2 separate regions of the Homo sapiens genome follow, and region 1 is linked to region 2. The links come from fine-mapping of genetic effects on gene expression. Tissue or cell type: nasal epithelium. Region 2 holds a variant in brackets; the other region holds the start of a gene. All regions are shown on one strand. Distances are from middle to middle. Region 1 holds the start of EGLN3 (egl-9 family hypoxia inducible factor 3). Region 2 overlaps EGLN3-AS1 (EGLN3 antisense RNA 1).

What was found. PIP is the estimated chance that this variant, and not a neighbour inherited with it, causes the effect.
Region 1: EGLN3 starts here. The variant in region 2 is fine-mapped to the expression of EGLN3 in nasal epithelium (TOPMed, PIP above 0.99).

Annotation. Positions count from the first base shown.
Region 1 is chr14:33,946,679-33,956,317 of GRCh38, forward strand. EGLN3 (egl-9 family hypoxia inducible factor 3) reads right to left here and starts at 4,396. Exons shown (of 5, transcript NM_022073.4): 1 at 3,718-4,396. The coding sequence starts at 4,074. RefSeq lists an enhancer at 4,164-4,333 and a silencer at 4,454-4,533.
Region 2 is chr14:34,054,462-34,064,100 of GRCh38, forward strand. EGLN3-AS1 (EGLN3 antisense RNA 1) reads left to right here. Exons shown (of 3, transcript NR_184209.1): 3 at 4,671-7,901. All of the region lies in intron 5 of LOC102724945 (a long non-coding RNA gene), which reads right to left. Among named protein-coding and RNA genes, the nearest start is that of EGLN3-AS1, 19 kb to the left of the region's middle. RefSeq lists enhancers at 823-872, 5,356-5,857 and a silencer at 5,756-6,115. The variant C/T (reference allele first, on the strand shown) is at 5,646.

The DNA.
Region 1 (9,639 bases), 110 kb before region 2:
ACAAATCTAGGTTAGGATCCCAAATTTCCCCTCTGGAGACTTAAAACACTGATGAAGGCTCGGAATTCTGCTAAACATTTCATAAACATCATCTTATTTAATGCTTCTTCCTCCAACAGCTTTACGGCATTATTTCCTTTCATTTTGCACCTGGTGTAAACCAAGCAACTTGCCTAAAGCCACGAAGTTAGTTAACACTGAGCCTGAGCTCCCAGCCCCCATTTAAACTGTTTCTTACCACTGACTTTGAAACTTTGGGCACAGTATTTAATCACTCAATATGTTTAAGACTGTGTTTCTGAAGATTAAGCAAGATAGTATTTGTAAAGTGCATAGCACAGTGCCAGACAATACAAACTGCTCAATAAAAGGTAGTTCTTCTTATTAGAGTCACTAACTAGTGAGTCTACAGTGAGCTGTTTGAAGCAGAGGGACTTTTGGTTCTAAAAATTATACATTCTCTGGAAAACAGCCATTTTCAAGATCTAGGCAGCCAAAGAAAAAGGAGCAAATTATGACCAATATTTATCTTGGATATGGTCTAAAATCTCCAAAAGGGAGTAGCGAGCGGATAAATCCTTTGCTAGCCTGAAAGCAATGATCATGCTTGAAGTTAGGGGGGGCCATACAGCTGTACATTACAGGAACCACTTCCCAAGGGGTCTTCAACACCCTTGGATTTTTCTCCAGCAAAGATGAGGTAGACAAATTCTGACCATTAACAACTTTCTTGGCAGGAAGCAGAACCATCTAATATTTCTTTCTATATTCTTCCACAATTTCAATTTTAGGTCCAGTGTATCTTTCTGTTTTACTCCCAATATCTTTGCTATTGTTTCATTGAGATAAAGGGCAATATTATTCAATGATCTTTCCAAGTCTAGCAAAGAACAAAAAAAGAAATGAAATTTGGGTAAGTGCATGAATAAGCATAACCTCAAGAAATTTAAAGTAGCTAAAAAAAATTGGTCTAAAACAAATGTACATATTGGCAATTGTTGAAATTGGGTGATGGGAGCTCATTATATTAGCCTCTTATGTTTATGTATGTTTGAAAATTTCCTTAATTAAAACTTAAAAATAAATTTAAGGGCCGGGCACAGTGGCTCAAGCCTGTAATCCCAGAACTTTGGGAGGCCGAGGCGGGTGGATCATGAGGTCAAGAGATCGAGACCAGCCCGGCCAACATGGTGAAACCCCGTCTCTACTAAAAATACAAAAATTAGCTGGGCAGGGTGGCGTGCCTGTGGTCCCAGCTATGCAGCAGGCTGAGGCAGGAGAATCACTTGAACCCAGGAGGCAGAGATTGCAGTGAGCCGCTACAGCCTGGCGACAGAGCAAGACTCCATCTCAAAAAAATAATAATAATAAATAAATTTAAAACTTTAGTTTTTCTTGAAAACACGGGTGAAGGATGAACCGGTAAACTGGGTCTCTATCACTGCTCTGGAAAGCAGCACAAAATGAGGAGCTCAGCTGAGGGATAAAAAGTGAGTGAAGAAAAAGAAGGATAAATTAATGTGAAACCAATAAAAATCATGTAGAAATGGAAAGTGTTTCTACCATGACTTTAATAATGAACTTCAAACAAGAAACCCAAGACCACAAGACATCACTAAGGAGACTTCTGTATACAAGCAAAGCACACTTAAAAAAAATTTAACTACACTAGTTGTTTGCTCAAGCCTGGTTTGCATTTGGTTCTAATTGGCCAGGGAATATTCCAATCGAAAGGTGATTTATCTAAAGGGCAGGGAGCTTTGTGACAAACCAGCCAAAGTAAACCTGGAAATCTGGGGGTGGGACAGGATAAATTTTATTTTCAATTCACGATCACCTTCTGACAGGGTCACCTGGAAAGTTTTTCATTCCACCCAAAAGATAACCTAAAATTGATGAATCATATCTACAGGATCTTTCTTTCCCTTACCCTAACTTACACAGTGTTTTTCCTTCCATTTGAGTTAAATTCTAGTCTGAAACCCTATCCCTATCCATTAAGTCAAAGCTAAATAAAAATATTTAACTTTCAATGTTAGTGGCCTCTTTCCATACCAATTAATCCTGACCTCCCTCAGAGCAAATTCTGCTCCTAGAATGATGAAGAAAAACTCCTAACACCTAAATTTACAAGAAACATTTAAAAACCCAATAAGAAGCCGTCTGCTCTTCCAGGTAGAAACTACCAGCATCTCAGCAACACTGAGGCTGACCCTTCCCCTCCCCGACACACCTCCACCACAGAAGACAGCAAGGTCATTTAATGCAAAAATCAAACTAGTCAAAGACGAGTGACTAATCCACCACCAACATGATGGAAGAAGAATAAAGAAACACTTTAGCATCAATCTCCTACAGAGTTCAGCTCACGCGGAATTTTTTTCCCCAAAGTAAAATTTAGAAAGCAGTATCTTCTAAGATTTACTTTACTTGGGTGCATTAATAACGATGCTTTCAGATATTCTATTCATGGCCTCTTGGCTTGGAAGTTGTACGGCAAACTGTGACTCCCCACTGCACTCATCCACCTCCACCCCTTCACTCCCACACGTTTCCAATCCTCACCACTTAGCCTTTATTCAGAGTGTTCCTCTCAGCGTATTAGAGAAATGAGAGAACAATGGTCTGTTCTGAGACAGGATCAGTCTTGAGACTGATTTGAGAAATACTATATTTATTGTCAAAGAGTGGTACATAGGTGAGTGTTCATCTTCCCTCTCATGCCGGTATACTCTGCTTCGCTGTTTCAGTAAAAGTTTTCCGTAGTTCTGAACGTCCCTTGACCACACCATAAGACAAGCGCAAGTCACTCAGAATTGCCACTGGAAAACTGGCTCAACTATCATTTGAGGAAAGACTGAGAAAGCCTATCCCAAAGTAATGGACATGCACCAACATCGCGGTACCTACATGTTCCCGTTTTTCTGCCAATCTACCTGTGTTTCCAAGATAAATTACCACCCAGGGAGTCACTTCCTGCTATGTGAACAAAAACCCGGTTTCTTTCTGGAGGTGCTTGACTACTCTCTCGTGAGCACTTAACTGGTTGTTTTGAGTGGACTTTGCCATCAATTCATAGTTAGGAAAAGGAAGGTGGTGGTGCAGGGCTCAGCATCAGGAGAGAATTTTCAGTCAAGAAGATGGTCTAACAATGTGCTGGGTCCCAGGGGGCAGAAGCAGCATTCAGAAGTGGAGTTTTACCCTTTCACACCTGCCCAACTCCACAAACCAACTGCCACATGGCAAAATCACAACTGCCTCCAGAATTCTGAGTGCTTTTGTAGAAATCTCTTCTGACCACAATGAAGGGCAGTATTAGGTGGCTTTAAAGTAGGCATTTAAGATCATGAGGACACGTGTGTCTCAGATGATACACAGTGTTTCCAATACCCTTTCCCTCCTTTGGATCTTTGAGAACCTCGTCTTAAAATCGGACCACAGCCACAGCTTGTCTGGCTTTTGTCACCCACAAGAGCCAATATTTCAAAGTCAACAGAAGGTCATCATCATGGTTCACCTGAGCCCCTTAACGTTGACTTTCGCTCAGAGGAGCTGGGGCGAGGGGTGGGGGGAAGCAGCGAGTAGAGACAAACCAGGCTGACTTCTTGGTTAAAAAACAAAGTTCGCTTACGGCCCTGGGAAGTCGACATACAACGGACTCCGAGTGCCTCCCGTCCCCGCGGGAGCAGCTGCGGCAGGGCGCCGAGCGCGTCCTACCTTAGACCTCTCCTTGACGTAGTATTTGCCCAGCCGGCTCCCGCAGTAGAGGACCAGCCTGTCGATGAGGGACAGGAGGAAGCTGATGGCCTCGCAGCCCTCCTCGTTGCCCCCGATCCACGTGATCTGGTCGCCCCGCAGGTGTCGCTTGGAGACGCCGGCGCGCGGCCCCGCCAGCTGGCCGTCCCGCAGGGCCCCGGTGCAGTGCAGCTGCTTGACGCGCTCCAGGACGCAGTCGCCCACCACCTCGCCCAGGAAGTTGTCCAGGTAGCAGAAGCCCACCTCGTGCAGACAGGGCACGATGTACTCCAGGGCAATTTTCTCCAGGTCCAGCCTCATGATGTGTCCCAGGGGCATCTCGCCCGCAGAATCGAGGTCCGGGATCCCCAGCGTGCAACCAGAGAGGGAACGATCTACACGAGCGCGAAGCCGAGGCGCGGGGAGCGTGGCCCGGGGTTCAGAAACCTGCGGCTGCCACGGTACCCGAGCCGCTGCAGCGTCGGGGACAAGGGAAAGTTTCTCGCAACTCTCGGGAGAAGGGATCTGCCTTCGGGAACCAGCGGGAGTGGTGCGGAGCTCCACGACCCGTTTCCGGACTGGCCCGGCGAGCAGTGCGGCGCAAGGAGTCGGAGGGCGCCTTTTGGGGATGGGAAGCCACCACTGCCGCGACTGCGGCCAGACTCCGGGAGACGCTGAGGTCCGGCCCTTAAGCCGGCCGACTCCGCGCGTCACGGGCTCCGCCCCGGGACCGCCTCCGGGACCGCCCTTTCCCCCGCCCCGCTGCCAGTCACCCCCGCCTGCTCTGCCCCTCCGCGAAGGATCCCAGAGAGCCCGGCGCCAACCTTAGTTGTTTGTGACCAGGGGAGCGGCTGGAAAGCAGACTGAATTTTTAGAATGCGCTGGATTTGCATATTGTTTTGCATAAAATCACATAACAAACTTGAAAACCTGGATCCCACACTGAAAATGTAAATAGAATTAACTGCCACATTCTGGGTTGGTCACCTCATAGACTTTTGAGCAAAATAATAACCCCAAAAACGAATATATTTATTAAGCAGTGGTCTTGTTCTACCTTTACCGGGTGTCTTTCCTTATTTACCCCATTCCTCTGCTGTTTGACCCAGTTCAAGCCACTGAGAGATTAGGAGGTATCTAGTTTTAACTAAAATTAATGCATTAACGAATATTTCCCTCAGCCCCTACTGTGTGCAAGGCACTATGTGCTTGAGGAGCTGGGGATGAGCACAATGAAGAAATGCTGAGTCATATCTGATTGAACTCTGCAAATGGTGTATTTTGCTTTGCTTGATGTTTTCCTCTACTTACCTTTCAAGCTTCCTATTAAAATATGATGTTCCGAAATTCTACCTTCCAAATTAATCACATGCTTCTGTAACAGTCAGAGGTATGTCCCCCAAAAGATACACTGTATTCTAGGTCTCTCACTTTTCCCACAAGCAGCTGTACTTTCACAAGAGGGACAGACACCACTGAGAAGACTTTGGTTATCTACAGATAAGCTGATTTGCTTTATGGAGTTTTGATTCCCTTTCCTACTGAACACCAGCGATCAGAATCAGGAAAAAATTCATAAATTGCATGCAAAGCTATTTGTACTTCTTTAAAAAAAAAAAAAAAGGAACTGTATTTTTTTTATTTATTTATTCTGAGACGGAGTTTTGCTCTTGTTGCCTGGGCTGGAGTGCAGTGGTGTGATCTCTGCTCACCACAACCTCCGCATCCCAGGTTCAAGCAATTCTCCTGCCTCAGGCTCCCAAGTAGCTGGGATTACAGGCGCCCGCCACCATGCCTGGCTAATTTTGTATTTTTAGTAGAGGTGAGGTTTCTCCACATTGGTCAGACTGGTCTCGAACTCCCGACCTCAGGTGATCCGCCCGCCTCGCCCTCCCAAAGTGCTCGGATTACAGGCGTGAGCCACCGTGCCCGGCCTATTTGCACCTTTTTTACTTCATATGAGTGCACACTTGGGTTCTTCATTTAAGTTGAAGAAAAGAATGTACAGGTTTTTCGGGTATTGTTTATTGTGGAAGCAAATTTCTACAGCTTTTTCACTTTTCTTCTTCCTCCAGCAGCCCTCTCCTCTCTGCCTCTGAGGGGAGAAAGGGAATGACATCCAGGACAAGAACAAAGAATAGAAGAGGAAAGGTGCTGCTACAAGTTGGAAAGAAGCAGACAGAGGCACGTGGTTGAGTAAGAACCTGGGGGATGGTGAAGGAGAGCAGTCAATGGTGGAGTGCTTAAGAAACTTTGATGAAACTTCTAGTTATATTGAGAGAGGTTCTCTGCCAAGTCAGTGATTAGTTGGCACCTTTGGTATTACCTTTGAGCAGGAGGTACCCCTCCTTGGGGTAAAGGCCATCACTGCTCAAAGAGCTCTTGTCTAAATTCCCAAGGCAGCTCCATGATGAGAGGAGACCATCATCCTTGGAACCCCAGTGTTTAGCACATAGTGAATGGCTAATAAATAGTTACTGGGAACTCAATGTCTGACCCTGAGCCATAGCAGCCTCCACTTGGGATTCAGTATGTCTGGGCTTATCTGGAAGGATCTATTTGCAAAAGGGGCTGGGGAGCCTCCCCAAAGAGAAGTCACTGGAAAAGAGTCAAGCAAATTAGCCTGACCCAGCACAAAAGCTTAGAGGCCAGTGGAGGGAGAACTTAGGAGTTCTACAGGGCATTTGTCTCTCAGCTTTGTCTATCTGAGCAGTGGACATTTGAGTGGTGGGAGCCAGAGACATAAAGTGAAAACTGGAGGACTGTTAAATTGCAGCAAAGGGCCAGGCACAGTGGCTCACACCTGTAATCCCAGCACTTTGGGAGGCCGAGGTGGGCAGATCACCTGAGGTCAGGAGTTTGAGACCAGCCTGGCCAACGTGGTGAAACCCCGCCTCAACTAAAAATACAAAAATTAGCCACACATGGTGGCAGGCATCTGTAATCCCAGCTACTCGGGAGGCTGAGGCAAGAGAATCACTTGAACCCAGCAGGTGGAGGTTGCAGTGAGCTGAGATTATGCCACTGCACTCTTGCCTGGGTGACAAAAGTGAAATTTAGCCTTAAAAAAAAAAAATTGCAGCAAGGAGTGAAATGGAGTGCAGTACCAAAAAGGAGGAAAGCCCTCCTCTCTACTTCTGCTTGAACCCTGCACAGAAGGAACTGCTTTGCCTCCTGCAGTGATCTCCTCCAGGGGCACTATGGATAATGGGGTGACCAGGAGAAACCTGGTCTAAGACAGCCTGAATGTAGACCCTGGTTGGCATTGGGTCGTGCATTTTGCAGCTTTGGGGACTGTGTAAATCTCAGAAGTAGATATCCCTGAAGAGGGACAGAATCAAAAAGGGGGAAGGTGACAGATAATCCTTAGTAACTAGCTGAAATGTTTCTAGCTGGAGGCTTTTTGTAGATACACCTTATTCCTAGGAACGATAAGGAGGGAATTTACAAAGGAATGGAAACCTGCAATCACTGGTAGAGGGGTGGTGGTCAGTAAAATACAGAAAATTATACAACCACCTTCCAGAATGAACATGTTGACCCAAGACTTCAAATCCCAGGAGTGGGTAAATTTAGTTTACTGTTCAAATAATATTTCAATAATTTCACAGTAAAATTGTAACTCGTTATAACTAGAGCAATAGTCTAAGTGAGTCCTAGTGACAACTGTTCTAGATTATGTTGGTTGTAAAGCATGGGCAGTTTAGAAAGGAATTCAATCCCTTGGCACCATCCCTGCTTGGCAAGGGCACTCATTAATCAATCAAGGACCTCCCGATCAGCTTAGGGCTGCCAGCACTGCATTTGGCAGAGGAATCAGAGATACTGTGACTGGCAAAAATCAGAGTGTGTGATTGCACGGAGGAACACAGACAGGCTGGAGCCAGGCACAGGCTGTGGGTCTGAGCATCAGAGAGGGAAAACCCAAGCTAATTGTTAAAGTGCATTTGCTTTAGTTATTTGTCCACTAATTTGTGTCATAATAATGAATATTAAAATACCTTTCCATAATAACTAAAGCAAATTAATTTCCCTGTAATTTAATTACAGCAACATTGTCTTCCAGTGTGCATCTGCAGTATAGATGCAGTCATTTTCAAGCATGTGGAGGAGTAGGGGAGAAAGAAAAATGTTGAGTTTTCTTACCTTTGAATTTGAACTGGAAGAGATATTAGTGGTCACCTAGTTCAACTTCATTTTCCTACAGATGACGAAACCAAAGAGTCTCAGTTGAGTGGAAGAGGAAGCATGGGATGCTTCTGCCTTCTCAACTGTAACACTGTCCTATTTATATATGTATGCATTTTGACTTTAACGAGGTAAAATTCACAAAACATAAAATTTACGATTTTATAATGAACAATTCAGTGGCATTTACTACATTCGCGATGTTATGAAACCACCACCTCTCTCTAGTTCCAAAACATTTTCACCACCCCAAAAGAAAACTGTGCCTATTAAGCAGTTATTCCCCATTGCCTCCTCTCCCAAGCCCCTAGCAACCATCAATCTGCCTTCTCTATGGATTTGCCCATTCTAGATATTTCCTAATAATGGAATCATATAACCTGTGACCTTTTGTGACTGGCTTCTTTCACTTAGCATGATGTTTTGTACCATTTACCAAGATTTTATTTCTTTTTATGGCTGAATGATAATTCCACTACGTAGATATACCACAATTTGTTTATCCAGTCATCCACTGATGAGTATTTGGGTTGTTTCCACTTTTTGGCTATTATAATAGTGCTGTTATTAACATGCATGCATAAGTATGTTGAGTACCTGTTTTCAATTCTTTGGAGAATAGACCTAGGCATACAGTTTTGGGGGCATATGGTAATTTTATAACTCTTTCTTTTTTTTTTTTTTTTTTTTTGAGATGGAGTTTTGCCCTTGTCGCCTAGGCTACAGTGCAATGGCGCAATCTCGGCTCGCTGCAACCTCGACCTCCCGGATTCAAGCGATTCTCCTGCCTCAGCCTCCCAAGTAACTGGGATTACAGGCACCTACCACCACACCCAGCCAATTGTTTGTTTGTTTGTTTGTTTGTTTTGAGACAGAGTTTCGCTCTTGTCACCCAGGCTAGAGTGCAATGGCACCATCTCGGCTCACCGCAACCTCCGCCTCCTGCGTTCAAGCGATTCTTCTGCCTCAGCCTCCCAAGTAGCTGGGATTACAGGTGCCCGCCACCATGCCCACCTAATTTTTGTATTTTTAGTAGAGATGGGGTTTCACCACGTTGGCTAGACTGGTCTCAAACTCCTGACCTCAAGTGATCCACCCGCCTTGGCCTCTCAAAGTGCTGGGATTACAGGCATGAGCTACTGCGCCCGGCCTATGTTTAACTTTTTGGAAAACCACCAAACTGTTTTCCACAATAGGTGTACCATTTTACATTTCCAACAGAAATATGGGAAGGTTCCATCGTGTCCTTTTTTATTTCTGATGAAAAATGTCTACATGTCTTCTTTTCCATCAAAGTACTGCCATACCTGAGGTTCTCTTCCTCCTAGCTGGTATCTGAATATTTTGTGTGTGTGTTTTTACCATCCTATATCATCAGAAGGTTTATCATTATTTTGCATGACTTCACTGTGAGCAAAGGCAACCTTATTTATTGATCCATTAAACATTTTTGCAACACTTAGTACTGTGCTAAAAGTTTACAAACATTACTTCAATTAATTCTTATAACACCACCAGGAAATCGGTACTATTCTTCTTCTCCATTATGAAGATGACAAAAGTGAGAAATAAAGAGGCTAAGGAACTTGCCCAAGGTCACTCTGCAAGAGAATAACAATGTAGGACAAAATTTGAGAGATTCAAATGTAGTAACATGGGGGTGTGGAGGGAGAATCATTTTGAGCCAAGTGTCTGGCATGAAACTGTTTCTGCCCT
Region 2 (9,639 bases):
TTGAAGAGACAAATTATCCTGTTGCCCAAATGCTCCCCCAGCAAACTTAAAAGTCCTGCAACCAGCATCTGTATTTAAAAAGAGCACGTGAGGTCAGGCACGGTGGCTCAAGCCTGATTTCCTAGCACTTTGGGAGGCTGAGGCTGGTGGATTACTTGAGGCCAAGAGTTCAAGACCAGTCTGGGCAACATGGTGAAACCCCATCTCTACTAAAAATACATAAATTAGCCAGGCTTGGTGGTGCATGCCTGTAATCCCAGCTACTTGGGAGGCTGAGGCACAAGAATTACTCGAACTGAGATTGTGCCACTGCACTCCAGTCTGGGTGACAGAGCAAGATTCTGTCTCAAAAAAAAAAAAAAAAAAAAGAAAGAAAGAAAGAAAAAGAAAAGAAAAGAAAAAAAAAAAAGCACATGAGAAGGATGGGAAACATTACAACAATTTCCCATTTTTCTCCCCAGAAGAGTTTATTAGATTAAATAGAAGTAGAATACTAAGGACTATAGCTGGATGGGGAGGACAGAGTTTGAGGCTTGTTTAGAAAAGAAGGTCAGAAGCTCTCACTGTAAGGAGGGGAGGCATCATGAGAGCATTGGACTCTTGACGGGGTGAAGGGAGTAAAGCTGAGGGCATGGAGAAGTGGAAGGGGTGTGGAGAGGAGCGATTACAAAGACAAAATTCAGCTAAGTTAATGGAGCCAGGTCCTTTCCTAAAGCCACATCTTCCCTCCCCAACTCTGCCCCAATCAAGACTAGACTACATACTGCAGGCATCCTACTCAAGAGAAAAGAGCCTGGATTTTCAAGCCACCATAAACTCAGAGCAACTCCCAGTCCTACCATTTACCAGTTGACTAAGTTCATTGACCCTTCTGAACCATGGATTCCTCTTCTATAAAAACAAAACAGAAACAAAAACTCTCAAAACAAAGTTGTGAGGATTCAGTAAGATAAGGCAGGTGATAGGCCAGCTAAGTGCCCAGCTTCTAGGAGGTGCTCAGATCGCTTAGTTTTTCAGCCAGCTTTCTGACCTCACACTAAGTCCACAGCCTCTTGCGCTTTTTCCTATCTAGTTTTTACATGTAATTTATTACATTCAATTCAATTCAACAGAGATTTTATAGAATGCCAAGCACTAAACTCTGGGGATACCAGAGGATCAGGTCCCCTTGCTCCCCATGGCCCCCCAAAACTTGTAGCCTATATAGGAGACTAAAGATTAAATATGCAGTTACAAATGAACAATGAACATTCCAATAAGGGAAATACAGGAGCTGTCAGAACACAGCTCTCACATTACACAATAGATGTAAAATGAGCTCTATGTCATTTATGCTAAATGTCAAGACACAGGAATTAAGCACTTCCACAATAAAAATCTAGGTGGATACCTCAGTAGAGCAGATTTTTATGTTGGTGGTAGTTTCCAAAGTTAGCACATAACTGAAAGCAGTCACTTGAAAAAAAATCCCTTAAATTATCCATAAAATAGTGTATACATGGTTTTCGTGTACAAGTATGCATTGCTGTGTGTATGTAAATACGTAATAATCTACACAACAGATAATTGACAAAGAATAAATATGCAAAATATAAGTTTACAGATTTTACTACACAGAAGAAACCAAAAGTGAAATTAGAAAAAGTTTGCAAAATCAATGTTCTAAAAACTTCCAGTGGAAATGCATGTTTTGTTTTGATAACAAATTCTAAAGGGCCAGGACACAGCTGCAAGGCCAAGCACATTCACACTCTTCAACCACCCTGGGCTTTTTAAAAGTGTGAATAAAGGCAGTAGCTTCAGAAAATCATTCTTTGGTTCTCTTAGTTGTTAGACTTCTGTAGGAGCCTGTCAATCTTACAGAGTATTAATAGAAAGAAAATTACCACCCCACCCCACCCCCCCCCCCCGCAAAAAAAACCTTATTGCCTTTTATTTTTGGACAGGTTATGGAATCACAAAATCTCAAGGTTGTAAGGGAACCGAAAGAGCACTGGTCCAACCTGTCATCATATGTTTCAATCCCTCCCAAGGGATCAAACAGTCTCTACTTAGATATTTCCAGTAGCTAGAAACTACCCCTTCCATCTTAGAACACCTCCAGCAGTAATTTAAATGCACAATTGCTTCAAAAATTTAATACATCAAAATTATGTGTTGCAGGAAGATCTTCCTGGCAGGGATTCACTTTAAAAGTATTATGAAGAATTTACTCTGCAATATTCTTAGTGTATAAAAGGGTCATACAGACTAATAAGAAAATCGCTAAGATCTCAATAGATAAGAAAAAATGTAAATCATCACATTTGTATTTAAAAGTTCAGTCAGCTGGGCGCAGTGGCTCACTCCTGTAATCTCAGCACTTTGGGAGGCCGAGGTGGGCGGATCACCTGAGGTCGCGAGTTTGAGACCAGCCTGACCAACATGGAGAAACCCCATCTCTACTGAAAATACAAAATTAGCTGAGTGTGGTGGTGTGTGCCTGTAATCCCAGCTATTTGGGAGGCTGAGGCAGGAGAATCACTTGAACCCAGGGGGCAGAGATTGTGGTGAGCCGAGATTGTACCATCGCACTCCAGCCTGGGCAACGAGAGTAGAACTCTGTCTCAAAAAAGAAAAGGTCAGTCTACCTAATTTAATAGGCAAAAAATTATCCCACATTTTAATCCATTAAATAACAAAGGTCAAGACACATTGCACCAAAAAAGCAGTGAGATATAAACTGATGGTAGAACTGTAGATTGCTACAACTTTTATGTATTTCATTTTGGCAATATTCATTTGTCAAAGAATAAGCCTAGAGGTTTGTTGTCGTTGTTGTTGTTTCATCACAGCTGAGTCTACTAATTTACCAGGCAAGGGAACACAAACCAAAACAGAAATTTGCAATGTATCCCTGTTAGGGAAATGTCAGGGGTTGCTTTTTAAGTGCTGGAGAGAAGTGCCTGATGATTATTCTAGTTAAGCATTGACAACTAGCATTCTAGACAGTCAGTCATTTAAACAAGTGTCACTGTCTGTGGTCAGGAAAGAGTTTTCAATCAGGTCCTGTGTGTGGGTGGGGCCCGGGGGGGTTCCTTAAAGTTAATGGTCAGCTTTAGCAGGTTAGAACCAGCTGGGATAAAACACAGTCTTTAGTTTTGATATTCCTAAGCAAGAAGGGAAATTTCTTCCTTGTTTTCTTCACTCATTCAACAATGCACATTAAGGCTGGGCACGGTGGTTCACACCTGTAATCCCAGCACTTTGGGAGGCCCAGGCGGGCAGATCACTTCAGATCAGGAGTTTGTGACCAGCCTGGCCAACATGGTGAAATCCCATCTCTACTAAAAATACAAAAAACATTGGCCAGGCATGGTTGTACGAGCCTGTAATCCCAGCTACTCGGGAGGCTGAGGCAGGAAAATCTCTTGAACGCAGGAAGCGGAGGTTGAAGTGAGCTGAGATCTCGCCACTGCACTCCAGCCTGGGCAACAGGGTGAGACTCCGTCTCAAAAAACAAACAAACAAACAAACAAAACATGCACACTAAGAACCATCTCCATGCTGGACACTGGTAATACAGCAGTAAAGCAGGCAGAGATAGTTCCTGTCTTCATGGAAATTGCCACCAAGTAATGTGATCTTGTCATGAAAATGTTTATATTATTAAACCTAAAAATTTCACTTTAGGAAGCTTATGTTAAGGAGATAATAAGCTGGTCAAATATTTATACACAAATATATTCATTGGAGTATTGCTTAAGCCAAAAAACAGAGACAACCTAAATTTCCAACAGTAAGGGAATTGCTTAAAAAATACATAATACATTCATAAATTGACTATAAAAGGTTTAATGACATGGGAAATGTGTACGATATAATATTAAGCAAGGCAAATAATATTTTCAAGACATAGAATGTGGCCTCAATTATATTAGACATTATATAAAATAAACTTTTAAAATACTTGGTTGCTGATCATGGTGGCTCACATCTGTAATCCCAGCTCTTTGGGAGGCCAAGGCAGGCAGATTGCTGGAGTCCAGGAGTTTGAGACTGGCTGGCTAACGTGGTGAAACCCTGTCTCTACAAAAAATACAAAAATGAGCTGGGCATGGTGATATGCACCTGTAGTCCCAGCTACAGGTCTGGCTAACATGGAGACACCCTGTCTCTACAAAAAATACAAAAGTTAGCTGAGCATGATGATATGCACCTGTAGTCCCAGCTACTCTGGAGGCTGAGGTGAGAGGATGACTTGAGCCCAGGAGGTCAAGGCTACAGTGAGCTGTAATCACACCACTGCATTCCAGCCTGGGCAACAAAGCAAGACCCTGTCTCAAAAATAAAATAAAATAAAACAAAATGAAATACTTCGAAAGAAATATACCTCAAATGCTAACATTTTATTGGTGTATGAATGTTGTATTACGGGATTTTTTTTTTCTTCTTTATATTTTAGTGTATTCACTTTTATGAGAGTTTGTATTAATTTTATAATCTAGAAAGAATTTGGCAAACATCCCCTCTGAAAAAAAAAATCAGAACAAAAACTACCCCCAAATAGGGAAAACTCTACAAATGGCTTAACTGTGTATACAGTCAAGATCCTATAACCTAGGTCTCTGTATCTAAAGGCAGAATTTACGTGTGAATTAATCTCATTTTTGTTTCTGCTGACTCCATAGAAACTGTGCTCTCCATGGCTTCCTCAAGATGAGCAAACAAGAGTGATACAGATTTTTCTGAGATGGACAGTGCCTCTCACTGACCCCGCCCCCAGTATCCTACGACCAAGGAAAAGAATCTCATGTGTCATTTCTGTGGGCCACGGTAGTTAAGGAAACTCCATGTATTTTCATCTGGAGCCTCACAGCAACCCTGACAAGTGGCTAAGTGGGGACAATGTGAAGCTCGGCTGCCCTTCCCCAAGGCCCTGGTCTTGACAGTCCTCAGGGGCTGGAGGCCCCCCTCATCCATGTCCCCACAAGATTTCTGTCCATGGCACCCAAGGACCCACTCAAATGGTCTTGAATGGACCTGAGGAAGACTGGCGAGTTATTGGTTTTATAAGCACAGTTGTGTCCGTTTACATCTACCAGAAGGTACAGGGATATGGCGAGAGTGAGAAGACGTGACACCTGTTAATACAAACTCTCCCCTTTAACTTGTCTTTCCAGAGAACACAGAATGGGAGACACCGCTAAAACAGGCCACGTTAGCACTAGAACTGATAAACTGAGAGCTAGGTTCTAGATAGAAAAGTTACGATGAAACATCCTCATCATTGTCAACAGATGAATATCTAAACCTCAGCTTTGATGTCCTCTGCCAAATGGATTGGATGATGCCTGCCCTTGCCACTCCACGGGGTCTTTGGGGATGAACTGAGCTACAATGGCGAGGGAGCGGGTGGGATACTAACTGGCCCTTCCCCTAGATAGGAGGCCATCAAGTGCAGAGCCAGAGACCGGCCCTGGGCCTCCGCAGGCTCCCCCGGAGCCAAAGAGAGGCCAAACCGAAGCGCCCTGCCCAAGGCCGCCCTAACGCGACTCTGGCCGCTCCTGCCTAGCAGATACCGGCTGGTGCCCTCGCTTCGGATGCAAGATCCCAGCTCTGCTGCAGCTTTCGAGCCGGAGGGACAATCGAAATGATCAAAAATG[C/T]CCGGCGGGCAGCCTTGGCGAGCGCGCGGCGGGGCGCGGGGTGAAGTCTCGCCAGGGCGCGCCGCGGCGGACACCGAGCCACACGCACTGTGCCTGCGCCCGCGGCCGCCCCGAAGGTAGTCGGTAACTGCGGCGGGCGGCGGCCGGGGCTGGACAGCCAGCCCCGCCCGGCAGGCTCGCAGCTCACGTAGCGCTAGCGTGAGTCAGCGCGTTCCAGCGCAGCCCCGGGCCGAGGGAGGGCTCCCGCGCGCAGCGCCAGCAGCCCGCACGTACCGGCCCCGGGAGGGGGCGCCTAGGTGGTTCCACTCGCGGGTGCCCTGTGCCCTGCAGTGTCCCCACGCCCCAGGTTGTCCCCCTCGAAAGCCACGTGGGCGTGGGGCTCGCCTTCCCTGGGCGGAGTCCCCATCGGTGCCTGCCCGCCCGGAAGTAGGGGCGCGAGGGTGACGGGCAAGACCGAGCCCGGCCCGTGATTCTTCCTCAGCCGGAGCTCGACCTTCTCCTTGTCCCTTGCGTTTCCTTTCTTTGAACCACACACTCGCTCGCTCACGTTTGTCCCGACTAAGTTGCCCCCGGCCCCCGCAGCTGTCATGAAGATAGATGGAGAGGTAGCTGCGAGAGCCCAGCCTCGGCGGGTGGTGCCCAGGGCGGACTGGGGAGACTAAAGACAGTAAAGGGCGGGTGGGACTCGAGTCCTCTATCCACCTAATCTCACATGCAGTGGGACTTATCATTCCAGTCGGTCTGCATTTCCTCAAATCTGCACCTGTTTAGTTACGACAACCAGCTTTATAAAAGGAAGCGGCCTACGTGCCTGACAGCTGAATGACGGAATTAGAAGTCATTCTCTACTAAATGTGTGAACATAGCAGGACCTCCGCTTAAGTTCTAGACCTACAGGGTTGCAAGTCTGGGCCTCCTGGGGGCAGGAAAAAATTCCAAGTCCTCCTTTGCCCCTCGGTAAAATGTTCTTTCACAAATTAGAGCCAACGGCACATCTGTGATGTGCCTATGTCACTTTTTCAAAGCCTTGCTCAGGGGTTGGAATGTCGTGGAGAGGGAGACGAGGTGGGTGCTTATGAAGGGAAAGAGATACATGGGGAAGGGGGAGAGGAAACGTTGATTAGGAAAGGAGCTTGCAGTCATGAGTAAAGTGACTGACAGAACGTTATTGAGCCTGTCATGGAGATCAGGCACTATTTGGGCACCAGTGACGCAAAATAAGTGGCTCCCCGTGGTCCCTGCTCTCAGGGTTACAGATGAGTGGGAGATATTAACTAAGTAGACAGTGAAACATGAGGAAGACTTAGTATGACGGTTCAGCACCCAGACTTGGGAACCAGGCTGTGCAGGTTCTGATGCTGGCTCTGCAATTTACAGACCGTGTGATCTTAGCCAAGTGAGTACCCCCATCTGTCCTCACCTTCTTGTTTTGGAAAATAAAAATGGTGAAAACGACTTACTTTTTAGGACATTTCAGAGGTCTAAATACATTAATACAAGCAGAGCACTGGAATTCAGTAGGCACCGAATAAATCTTGTTAATAGAATAAATGGAGGAGATACAGGCAGGGGCTGCCAAGCACAGCAGAGCAGGCTGTATGCTGTACAACTCCAGAAGACACGTTCGTAGAAGTGAATGGAGCTTTCTGGAACTGTGCAGTGTGGTGGTCCTGAGTATGAGTGATGTCTATTTTAGCATAGTTCATAATAGGAAAAAATGGAAAATTCAAATGCACTTATCTATAAATGTGGTATGTTCATACAGTGGAGTACTATTAGAGCTATTAAAAGGGATCAGCTGCATCTATGTGTATCAAAATCTCAAAAGTATATTGAATGAAAAACAGCAAGTTGCAAAATGATACATGCAGCATGATGCCATTTATAGAAAGAAAATGTACATACACACAAAAAATCCCATATATATATATATATATATATATATATATATATATATATATATATGCTGGAAAAATACACACCAAACTTAAAGCTGTCTTTGAATGGAAGGGGAGGAATTCAGATTTGAAATGGTAGTCATAGGAATTTAGCTTATTCTCATATTGTAATAATTGTTTCAAAGAACAATGTGCTTATATATCATGCAGTTTTTTATTTTAAGGAATAGATATAAAATAAAACTAGAAGCAAATATGTCAACACTGGCTAACTGTGGGTTGCTGGAATATGAGTAATCATTATTTTTTCATTTGTACTTTTCTGAATATTCAAATTAAAAATAATTACAACCTTGCAGGTCAAGTGCTATGCTAAAGGTGTAAAAGGGATGGGCCTGGAGAGCATGTCTCGGGTGAGGCTACGCTTGTACACCCACAATCTTCGGTCACAACAGAGAATGGAGCAAGCTCCCCAAGACCCCTCTGCTCTAACCCCACCCTGGGGCGGGCTGGGTGCCTCTGGAATGCCATGGCTGGCCAGGGTTTCCAGACCAGGGCTGTCCTGAGCATGATGCTGCTGGCGACCATGCTTTGCAGGTTCTTCTTTCAATCCTTACCCTCCCTAAAATATGGCGTTCTGGTTGGTGCCTGAGGGGGAAACACCAGATGATAGTAGAACCCTTGAGGACAGGGAACCATCCATGCTCTACAAGTGGGTCACCTACAATTCTGAAAATTAACTGAGTCATTGAATTCAACGCAGCAAGTAAATGGTAAAGGTGGAAATGGAAACCATATCCACCTTATATCTATGAATGTCTACTATTCTCTGCCTCTGTGCAGGACCCTTTCACAGGTGTTGTCCTCTTTTGGAGCAGCTCAATGAATTGGTCAAGATTCCAGGCTTTGTAGTTGCTCAGACCTAGGCTCGAGTAGCCAATGACTACAATTTAGGGCAAATCACTCAGTTTCTCTGACTCTGTTTCCTCTTCTGTGAAATGGGGATAACAGTGGTGCTGGGGGAACGGAATAGATAATATATGCAAAGCACTTAGTACAGTGGCCTCCCCAGGGATCCCCCAGTAAATGGTGGTTAGGTGTCCATCAGGAAGTGGGATCTTTTGATAACAGATGGATCCTGTTTTAAAAAGGAGATTTTTTTTTTCTTATCCTATAACTATCCTTTACCCTAGTAAAGGGTTAAATCGCTGTGTAGGAAAAGAATGAAAGCCTGTGTCTCTCAGTGAGGTGGGACTGAGCTTGAAATTGACATTCTACAAGAGTTTGACTAGGAACTGTTGTTTGGAGAAGCCCACCCTGCCCCACTTAAAAAAAACCAGTGGTGTTTTTGTTTCTTAATAGCTAAATCTACCCACTGAAAGCCCCAAACAGGATTCTCTTACATTTAAAAAATTAGCCTGACACACCAGTGCCTTCTGAAAGAAGCCGTCCGAGCTTTTAAGTCAAACACACTAAGAATTCCTTCTTTCTCTCTTGTTTGCTTTCTCTCCCTGGCACCCATAGACAAAAGATGTCTCAGGGATTTTTAACTCAGTTATGCTGAAAATCCAAGATTTAAACCTGATTCCCAGCTGCTCCTTTAGAACGTGTTGCACGAGAGATGTTGTTTAGTCCAACTAGCTGTGGGGAGGGGTAAACACACACTGCTGGATGGTGGGACGTGCAGAACGTCAGGGGAACATAACCAAACAGAGTTAAGCATGTGCTGTGACTAATAGAGGACAGCCTGGGGTGTGTCTGTCGTGAGAGAAATCACCTCCCCACTGGGCCCCAGTACCTGAGAGAGGCCAGGAAAATAGCATCTGATTCCCAGGCAGTGTTTATCCTGCCAGGCTGCATGTGGCTTCAGTTATCACAGCCATGCTCTTCTGAGTTGCCTCCTGTATTGGTTCTGGAAGGGGTGCTGCCACAGAGGGTCTATGCAATCTCTCCGGGTGAGCCCCATATCAAGGAAGCCAGGAGCCTACCGCAGAGCAGGACAGAACACTCCCACATCCCTGGCCCTGGCCTGAGCAGAGATGTCCAGACACTTCCCCAGGCACCTGCAACCCAACACTCCTCCCTGTCCTTTCAAC